Linked DNA regions of Homo sapiens: region 1 is linked to region 2. A link means that fine-mapping ties the variant in region 2 to the expression of a gene that starts in the linked region. Tissue or cell type: whole blood. Region 2 holds a variant in brackets; the other region holds the start of a gene. All regions are shown on one strand. Distances are between the middles of the regions.

The links. PIP is the estimated chance that this variant, and not a neighbour inherited with it, causes the effect.
Region 1: PKN3 starts here. The variant in region 2 is fine-mapped to the expression of PKN3 in whole blood (GTEx, PIP 0.90).

Annotation. Positions count from the first base shown.
Region 1 is chr9:128,700,556-128,705,555 of GRCh38, forward strand. PKN3 (protein kinase N3) reads left to right here and starts at 1,948. Exons shown (of 22, transcript NM_013355.5): 1 at 1,948-2,384; 2 at 4,748-4,988. The coding sequence starts at 2,361. RefSeq lists a silencer at 1,841-2,410 and an enhancer at 2,225-2,764.
Region 2 is chr9:128,803,900-128,808,899 of GRCh38, forward strand. TBC1D13 (TBC1 domain family member 13) reads left to right here. Exons shown (of 12, transcript NM_018201.5): 9 at 57-220; 10 at 1,960-2,120; 11 at 2,355-2,412; 12 at 3,915-5,000. The coding sequence ends at 3,980. Among named protein-coding and RNA genes, the nearest start is that of ENDOG, 12 kb to the right of the region's middle. The variant A/G (reference allele first, on the strand shown) is at 2,185.

The DNA.
Region 1 (5,000 bases), 100 kb before region 2:
GGCATGAGCCACTGGGCTTGGTCAGCCTTTTTGCTTCTAAATGATGGATAATAACGTTCATTTAACCTCCATTTTATTTTATTTTTATTTATTTATTTTTCTTGAGACAGAATCTTGCTCTGTTGCCCAGGCTGGAGTGTAGTGGCGTGATCTTAGCTCGCTGCAACCTCTGCCTCCCAGATTCAGGTGATTTGCCTGCCTCAGCCTCCCGAGTAGCTGGGACTACAGGCGTGCGCTACCACGCCCAGCTAGTTTTTCTAATTTTTTATTTTATGTATTTTTTTGAGATGCAGTTTTGCTCTTGTCATCTAGGCTGGAGTGTAGTGGCGAGATTGGCTTACTGCAACCTCCACTTCCCAGGTTCAAGTGATTCTCCAGCCTCAGCCTCCCTAGTAGCTGGGATTACAGGCACCCACCACCATGCCCAGCTAATATTTTTTTTTTGTAGTTTTAGTAGAGACGGGGTTTCACCATGTTGGCCAGGCTGGTCTCGAACTCCTGACCTTGTGATCCGCCTGCCTCGGCCTCCCAAAGTGCTAGGATTACAGGCGTGAGCCACCGCGCCCAGCTGCCTTTTTAATTTTTTTTTAGCAGAGACGGGATTTCACCATGTTGGCCAGGCTGGTCTTGAACTCCTGACCTTAAGTGATCTGCCCTCCTCAGCCTCCCAAAGTGCTGGGATTACAGGCATGAGCCACCATGCCCAGCCAACCCCCATGTCAAAGAACCTACTATGTGCCAGGTGCTTCTGCTAATGTCTAGACCTCAACAACTCTAATGTGTAAATGTCACATTTCGCCTCTGATTATGAAATCTGGGCATGTTTCACAGAGCCAAGTTGCCTTTGCTTATATGTCAATGCCACTTGGGTGATTTCCCATAGCAGGACAACCCAGTGTTGTCCATGGCTCACCAATTTCACTTTTTTCCAGTCCATTATGAAGGAAGTGATTAGTGCAAAGCACAACATGTGGCTTCCTTCATTCAGTAAGAGCACCAGAGCCTGTCTGTTCCAAGTCACTGTCGGTATTTGACCCTTCATCACCTTCCCACCTCCTGGAGGACGCTCCTCCACGAAGTGCTGACACAACCTCCTGTAAACGCAGGATGCCAGGACGGGCTGAATGGCCCGCCATAGACTAGGCAGTGACCAGCACACCTCCCTTGGGCTGAAATAGTGGCGGCTATTTCACCAGGTGTAAATGGCTTTTCTCCCGTGTGGATGGATGGGCTTTTTAGGGTAAAGCCCTAAAAAGTGGCACGGGCTGAACCAGCAAGCTCAGTCTGAGTAAGAGATGGGCCGGAGAGAGGTCTGGTTCATTCATCTGTAATTTGTAATTTATCATAATTTTGGGTGAGGATTTACTTTTCCACAAGTATACGTTCTTTTTTTTTTTTTTTTTTTTTTTTTGAGATGGAGTCTCGCTCTGTCACCCAGGTTGGAGGGCAGTGGCAGGATCTCGGCTCACTGCAACCTCCGCCTACTGGGTACAAGTGATTCTCCCACCTCAGCCTCCTGAGTAGCTGGGATTACAGGCGCCCGCCACCACGACCGGCTAATTTTTGTATTTTTAGTAGAGACGGGGGTTTCACCATGTTGGCCAGGCTGGTCTCGAACTCCTGACCTCGTGATCCGTCCACCTCTGCCTCCCAAACTGCTGGGATTACAGGCGTGAGCCACCGCACCTGGCCTAGTATACATTCTTGTAGTGACTAATATCTAGTCTGGGCCAACCACTCCGAGGAGAGAGACAATTTTGGATTAGCCCACATTACACCAACAACGTGCGAGACAAAGAGAGACTTGAGGGGCTTGGTCGAGGAGGCCCAGCGCGTTAGAGGCGGGAGCCAGGTTGTAGAGGGGCTCAAAGTTAGAGGAGGCGGCCAGCTCCACCGGCTGCACCCGGCTGGGCGACCCGGCAACCTTCAGGGGGCGCTGTTTCCCCCATCCCTGTCCCTAACTGGCCGGCTCCCGCGGGCGCGCGGCGGGGAAGGCCAGAGGACCTGGGCGCGGGCGATGTGCCTCCTGAGCGTCCAAACCGGGGGTGAGGCGCGGTCACGCCCAGCGGGAACCGCAGGCGCCGAAGCCCGGGTACTGGGCCCAGAATCCCGCGGAATTTTGGATCCGAGGGAGGCGCTGGGGCGCGGGACCTCGGGCGTGGGGTCCCGGGCGCTGGATCGGCGCGGACGGGAGGCGGCGCTGGTCCCGCGGGCCAGCGGGTCTCGGGAGGGGGCGCCCGATCCCGCGTCTCCGGCGCCGCTTCCCGGGAAGTTTCAAGTTTGAAAGTCCTGGCGGAGGGTCTGCGGCTTCCGGGACCGGAGTGGCTGAGAGAAGGGCCCCAAGCGGCCGGAGCGGCGCCATGGAGGAGGGGGCGCCGCGGCAGGTGAACGGCGTGGGAGGGGCGCGCGGGCCCGGGGGGTGCGAGAAAGCCTCTGTCATCGCCCCGGAGCCCCGAACCGCGGCCGCTTCCCCCGATCCTCCCCTCACCCGCGCCCCTTCCCTGCCCCTGCCCTGGCCCCGGCCCCGCGACGCCCTCGCAGAGCAGACCTGATCTCCGGGTTCGGTGGTTCCTGGACCTTGCACAGTCTCCAAATCAGTCCGCGGCTGACCCGGAGACTGAACCCCAACCAGCCCGTGAGCGAGGACGGCTGAGTCCGCAGTGTGCGCCACCAGGGTGGTCCCCAGAGTGTCCTTAAGTCGGTTCTCCTCGGTGGGGCTCCAAGGCCGACGGGAATTAGCCGGGATAGAAAGGCGGGGCACAGGGGCCTGGGGGGGTTAGAATGTGCGCGCAGCGGGGGGCGCAGTCTGTGCGCGCTTGGCAGTGGCAGGAGTCCTTCCCGGAGCACAGGAGGCACGAGGGGAGCGTAGATGAGAGGGGAGCGGCCTCCCCCGCCCCAGGGCGGGAACCTTTGGGTACATAGCGGGTTCTAGAATGCGGAGGGGGCTGGGTTTCCTGCCAGAGCTGGCAGTAGGTGCGCGTGGGCCCGGAGGACCGAGGCCATGTCTATCTGCTCCTGAGGAGGGAGAGGTGGTGTCCTGTTCCGGAGCGAGTGGTTGGGAGGGGGGCATTTGCGGACAGGAGTGGGTCCCCGCAAAGAGCGGAAAGGAGGTGGTGTGTGTGTCCATGTTGGAGTTCCAACCCAGGGCAGACGGGACCATGGGGGTGTTGCGGGGTGCGTGTAGACTCCTTGAGCGCCCAAGCCAGTCGTTTAGGCCGCCTTCAGGGCTGGGGCTCGGTCTGCCCCCTCCCACCCCCTTCCTCTGGAGGTCCCTCCGCCTGTTCCAGACGTAGCTTGTACACATTTTCCGATTTCCTGCGGGGCTCCGCCCTGCAGCGGCAGCTGGGTGACTCAGGACCCCGGTGGCCGGGCCCCCAGCTCCATGGGACCTTTGTTTGCTCCGGTCTTTGGCTCTGGCCCTGTGGCCTAGGGCGGTCAGAGGATTTCCTGAGCCTCGCCCTTGCCCTCTGACAGCTGGGCCAGCAGGCCCCGCTGAGGTCTGGGGTGGGGGGGTCCCTGAGTCTGGGGTTGCGGCCCCTTCCACTGGGCTCAGGAGAAGATGGAACACAGAGAGGTAAGATGGGGTTCCTGCAACAGCCCGTGTTGCGGGGCATCATGGGTTACCCGGCCTGAGGTCACCTTTGGCACCGGTTGGTTTGAAATGCTGGCGGCTGGAAAGGAGGTGTTCCTGTTCCTGGCTCCAACCTGGGTGAAGCCGTGAGAGAGCCTTCTACTTCCTCCCGGGAGCTGAGCAGGGAGTGGGCACCCGGAGACCTCCCCAGTTCCTCTCTGTGCCTCTGCTTTGCTACCTGTGGCATTGGGACATCAGGGGAACAAGCCCTGGCTCCCAGGCCCCTGGCTGCCTTCTCATGTGGCTTCGTGTGAACCCCTATTCGGCGTAGCTTTTGTGGCTCCTGGACTCTACTTTGGGTCCCAGATGTAGAGAGAGCAGCCTGATTACCCAGGGCTGCCAGGGACAGCTGGGGCCCGAGAGATGGTGGCCCCTCCTCTGTGTCTTGACTGTGGGCAAGTTACTTCACCTCTCTGGGCCTCAGTTTCCTCACTAGAAAATAGGGGTAATAGTACAGGCGTGGTGGCTCACACCTGTAATCCCAGCACTTTGGGAGGCCAAGGCAGGTGGATCACCTGAGGTCAGGATTCAAGACCAGCCTGACGAACATGGAGAAACCCCGTCCCTACTAAAAATACAAAATTAGCCGGGCTTAGTGGCGTGTGCCTGTAATCCCAGCTACTCAGGAGGCTGGGGCAGGAGAATCGCTTGAACCCGGGAGGCAGAGGTTGTGGTGAACCGAGATCGTGCCATGGCACTCCAGCCTGGGCAACAAGAGCAAAACTGTCTCAAAAAAAAAAAAAAGAAAAAGAAAAAGAAAAAAGAAAATGGGGGTAATGACCACCGCTACCGGGTGGGGTGGCTGGGAGGAGTGATGTGGTAATATATGCAAAGCACTTAGAATAGAACCTGGCACCCATTTACCGTGTGAACTGTCCCCCCCGCCACATCCTTCTCTAACGGGCGGAGGACAGGAGCCTGGCCTAGATGAGTGGCCTCGGAGTTTCCATCTGGCTCAGGCCTGAGCTCTAAGGGGAGAGAGGCTTCCAAAACCCTGTGCGAGTCAGTCCTGGGTGCCGTCCCTTCCTTCGCCTCCATCTGCAGTGAGCAAAGGCTGCTGGTGGCCGCTGCACCCCATGGCTGTTCTCCACCCTCTGCTTTCCACCGGCTCTGCAGCCTGGGCCGAGCCAGTGGCCCCCAGAGGATGAGAAGGAGGTGATCCGCCGGGCCATCCAGAAAGAGCTGAAGATCAAGGAGGGGGTGGAGAACCTGCGGCGCGTGGCCACAGACCGCCGCCACTTGGGCCATGTGCAGCAGCTGCTGCGGTCCTCCAACCGCCGCCTGGAGCAGCTGCATGGCGAGCTGCGGGAGCTGCACGCCCGAATCCTGCTGCCCGGCCCTGGGCCTGGCCCAGCTGGTGAGTGAGGAG
Region 2 (5,000 bases):
AGAGGTGGGGTGGGCCTGGAGTGCGCCACTTCTGCCCCCATCCTGCTCTCTCCCAGAGCACGCCGAGGCAGACACCTTTTTCTGCTTCACCAACCTCATGGCCGAGATCCGGGACAACTTTATCAAGAGCCTGGATGACTCGCAGTGTGGCATCACCTACAAGATGGAGAAGGTTTACTCCACCTTGAAAGATAAGGATGTGGAGCTCTACCTGAAACTGGTGAGGACCCCAGGAACAGACGGGTGGAAAGGGACAGGAGGCAGAGAGTTGCTGTGCCATCCCAGCCCAGGGCGAGGTCTCGCTTGAGTCTGGGGGTCAGAAGTAGCTGCTGCTGCTGCTGCCCGGGACGCTGACCCATGTGCTGAGGCAGCTGATGGTGGAGCCCAGCTGGGAGGGAAGGGGAAAGTTGAGAATGGTGCCCATTGTGTGCCAGGCATACTGCAGGGCATTTACTATGAACTAAATTGGTTAAGCTGTTAGTAGTCTTCTGAGGTAAGTGTTAACTTCATTTTTTTTTTTTTTTTGAGATGGAGTCTCGCTCTGTCGCCCAGACTGGAGTGCAGTGGCACAATCTCGGCTCACTGCAAGCTCCACCTCCCAGGTTCATGCCATTCTCCTGCCTCAGCCTCCCAAGCAGCTGGGACTACAGGCACCCGCCACTGTGCCCGGCTAATTTTTTGTATTTTTAGTAGAGATGGAGTTTCACTGTGTTAGCCAGGATGGTCTTGATGATCTCCTGACCTCGTAATCCACCCGCCTCGGCCTCCCAAAGTGCTGGGATTACAGGCATGAGCCACCGTGCCCAGCCCTTTTTTTTCTGTTTTTTTTTTTTTTTTTTTTTTTTTGAGAAGGACTCTCTCTCTCAGAGGCCAGGTTGGAGTGCAGTGGTGCAATCTCAGCTCACTGCAACCTCCGCCTCCCAGGTTCAAGCAATTCTCATGCCTCAGCCTCCCCAGTAGCTGGGATTACAGGCGTGCGTTACCACGCCTGGCTAGTTTTTGTATTTTTAGTAGAGATGGGATTTCGCTGTGTTGGCCAGGCTGGTCTCGAACTCCTGACCTCAAGTGATCCGCCTACCTCCCTCTCCCAAAGTGCTGGGATTACAGGCATGAGCCACTGTGCCTGGCTGGCCAGGAATAATGATATCTTTTTAAACAAATATGGGTTGAGTGTGATGGCTCACAGTTGTAATCCTAGCACTTTGGGAGACTGAGGCGGGAGGATCGCTTGAGCCCAGAGGTTGAGCAACATAGTGAAGCTTTGTCTCTACAAAAAATTTAAAAACAAATTAGCCAGGCATGGTGGCACAGGCCTGTAGTCTCAGCTACTCGGGAGGCTGAGAGAGGAGCCCTCGAGGTCAAGGCTGCAGTGAGCCATCCATGATTGTGCCACTGCACTTCAGCCTAGGCAATATAGCGAGACCTCATCTCTAAAAAAAAAAGGAAGTATGCTTTTGCTGTTTTGTAGCATGCTTTTTCAGTTAATATTCACTGTGGCTGACCAGAAGGCTTGTCTCTACTGGGAATAATTGCCTGTGGAATTGTTCTGTGGATTAAATGAGTGAGAGGACATATTTAATATTCTAAGCATAGCCCAGGCTTTTAGTAAGTGCCCTGTGATGGTCACTCAGCACATCCACAAACCCAAGGCTATCATCTGCAAAGTGTGTGAAAAGAGTTTGAGCCATCATTTATAAATCTGGAGAGCTTATTATATAAAGGTTTGGGTTTCCAGCTTCTCTTTAAAAAATAGGAAGATCTGAGGATGTTGGCTGGCAGCAAACAGGCTCCGCCCCTTTACCAGGCAAGGCTGTCCGGCAGCCTGGTGCCAGCCCTGGTGCTCACACCTGGCATGCTGGGCCCTGCTGTTCTGAATTCACTTCTGACCCACTGCGTGGTGCTCCATGGCCGGCAGCCAACACAGAGTCATGCCCCCCACCCCCCACGCTGTCTCCCCAGCAAGAGCAGAACATCAAGCCTCAGTTCTTTGCCTTCCGCTGGCTGACACTGCTGCTGTCCCAGGAGTTCTTGCTGCCTGACGTCATCCGCATCTGGGACTCCCTCTTCGCCGATGACAACCGCTTTGACTTCCTCCTCCTCGTCTGCTGCGCCATGCTCATGTGAGTGCGGGCATGAGCTGTCATCAGCTCACCTGGGCAGTCCTTGGAGAAGCCAGACAGGAGG[A/G]CCCTCCGCCCCGAAGGGTGGGCAGGGCTGCTCTTTCATGGCTGGAGTGGGATTCTGGAGTCCTTGGGAGGGCGACAAACCAAACTTGAGGTGGGTAGGGAGGGAGGAGTGGGCAGGGCCTGCACTCAGAGCATCCCAGGTCCCAGCGCTTTTGCTGCTGCTTTTCATAGGCTGATCCGGGAGCAGTTGCTGGAAGGGGACTTCACTGTGAATATGCGGCTGCTGCAGGTAATGGGAGTTGGGGGCAGGCTCAGCCACTGCCATGAGGCTGGCACTCGCCAGGCACCTGCCCACGCCAGCTGCTGCGACAGGCTGGGCAGGGGCAGCGGAGTGTAGTAGGGATTAAAGTCCAGACCCCTGAGCAGATCTGGTTTGGATCTGGGTTTGAATCCTGGTTCTGCCACTGACCTGGAATGTTGGGTGGCCTTGAGCAAGTGACTTGGCCTTCAAACCGTGTACTCTACGTAGGTGTTCACACCTAGGACACAGCAGGTGCCCAGAACATGGCCGTGCTTGCTGGTGGCCATGCTCAGGCCCGGGGAAGGAGGGTGGGGTGTAGTGATTAAGAACATGGGCTCACCGGGCGCGGTGGCTCATGCCTATAATCCCAGCACTTTGGGAGGCTGGGGTGGGTGGACCACCTGAGGTCTGGAGTTCAAGACCAGCCTGGCCAACATGGCGAAACCCCGTCTCTACTAAAAATACAAAAATTAGCCGGGCTTGGTGGCATGCACCTGTAATTCCCAGCTGCTTGGGAGGCTGAGGTAGGAGAATCACTTTAACTTGGGAGGTGGAGGTTGCAGTGAGCCAAGATCGCATCACTGCACTCCAGCCTGGGGGACAGAGCAAGACTCTGTCTCAGAAAAAAAGAACATGGGCTCAAGGGCCTACAGCTTTAGGTCCACAGTTTTGCTCTGCTGTGCTCATCATGTGACCCAAGCCAAGTTACAGCATCTCTGGGTCTCAGCTTCTTCACCAGCACGTGGCCTTAGTGTTGCTTTGTTGTTGTTTTTTTTTTTTTGAGACAGAGTCTCGCTCTGTTGTCCAGGCTGGAGTGCAGTGGTGCAATCTCGGTTCACTGCAACCTCCACCTCCCAGGTTCAAGTGATTCTCCTGCCTTAGCCTCCCGAGTAGCTGGGATTACAGGTGTGTGCCACCACGTCTGGCTAATTTTTGTACCTTTAGTAGAGACAGGGTTTCACCATCTTGGTCAGGCTGGTCTCGAACTCCTGACCTCAGGTGATCCGCCCACCTCAGCCTCCCAAAGTGCTGAGATTACAGGTGTGAGCCACCAAGCCCAGCCTAGAGTTGCTTTTCCCTAACTTCATGGACCAGATCTGGAAAAAGTGCAGAATCACAGTGGCCACTCACAGGGCTGTTGGGACTTCGCGCTGATGCTCAGACACTGGCCCAGTCCTACTGGCTCCACACGAGGGAGCTCGGGTTCAGTGGCAGTAGTGGGAGAGCTGAGGCAGCACGGTCTGGTCCTGAGGAAAGGGCCGCAAGAGCCTGGGAGTGGTTGTGTTTGGATCGTTGAGTTGGTGCTGCATGGTGTAGCGTCAGCTGCATGCAGGGGTCTGGGGGTTGGGGAGTGTGGGATGCCTGGTGTTCTGTGCTCCTGCCCCTGAGGCCCAGGATCCAGCATGGCAACGGGTCCCAGCAGGGAGGGTGTGGGTGTGGCAGGGGTGAAGTGGCTTCAGAGGCAACTGTTGGCCTTTTCCTGTGCCCAGGACTACCCCATCACAGATGTCTGCCAGATCCTGCAGAAAGCCAAGGAGCTCCAAGACTCAAAGTAGCCCGGCGGCAAGAGGCCCATGTTCCGGAGAGAAGCCTCCCGACCCTGTGCCCTGGCTCCCGGGACACATAGAAACCTGTAGGAACCCAGCCTGAGGGGAAGCCACAGGATCGGCCCGAGACCCAGGCCATGCCCACTGGGGACACACTGTGCCGTGCTCCTTCTGCCGCCACGCCCAGCTCCCCACCTGCCCTGCACTCTGCCCTCTTTGCCCAGGATACTGAGGAGGGCTGGAGCTCGGGAAGTTGTCCTTCCTGGGCCAGGGCCGTTTCTGGCACTGGGAGGCTGGCAGGGGCCCCTCCCTGCCTCGGCTCTGCCGCCCCAGCCTCAGTTCCTGCTTCTGGTCTTCTCCTGGGCTCCACTCAGGGGAGGTGCTTGGCCAATGGGCCAGAAACCGCTTCTGAGCGGGGCACTTCGGCTGCTCCACAGGGAAGGCGACACTGAAAGCTGAGTCCTGCCGTCTGTCTCACCCACAGATGTCTGTAGTCGGTCGGTGTGAATGTGGGCCCAAGTCCCCAGGCATCTTCTCCGTGTGTGTGTGTGTGTGTGTGTGTGTGTGTGTGTGTGTGTGTGTGTGTTAGGGAGTGAGGGTCTCTCAGGCCTCCAGGTCTCCCAGCCCCTCCTTCTCTGTCTCTACCTCTCTGCCTGTCTCCTTCCACCTCCTTCCCAGAGTGGGACTGTGTCTTGCTTCATGATTCCTCTCTCCATTACTCTCCCTGCCCTTCTCTGTTGGGGTGCCTTATCCTGAGCCACCTCCTCTCCCCGCTTGCCTCTGCTCCCCTGAACCTGGGAGACAGATGAGGAGACTGGCTCAGCAAGGCCCCTGGAGGTCAAGCTTGGCCTTTGCCTCCTGTTCCCATCCCCCAGCCCTGGCTCCTAGGTCCTCCCAACTGGGAGGGAGTCCTCCGTGCCTCACTTAGAGGGTTCTGAACCCGTTCCCTACACAGAAATCTTGGAAACCAAATGCTGCTGAGTAAGGATGAAGCTTTGAGCCTCCTGCCCCTGCTTTCTGCCCAGGGAG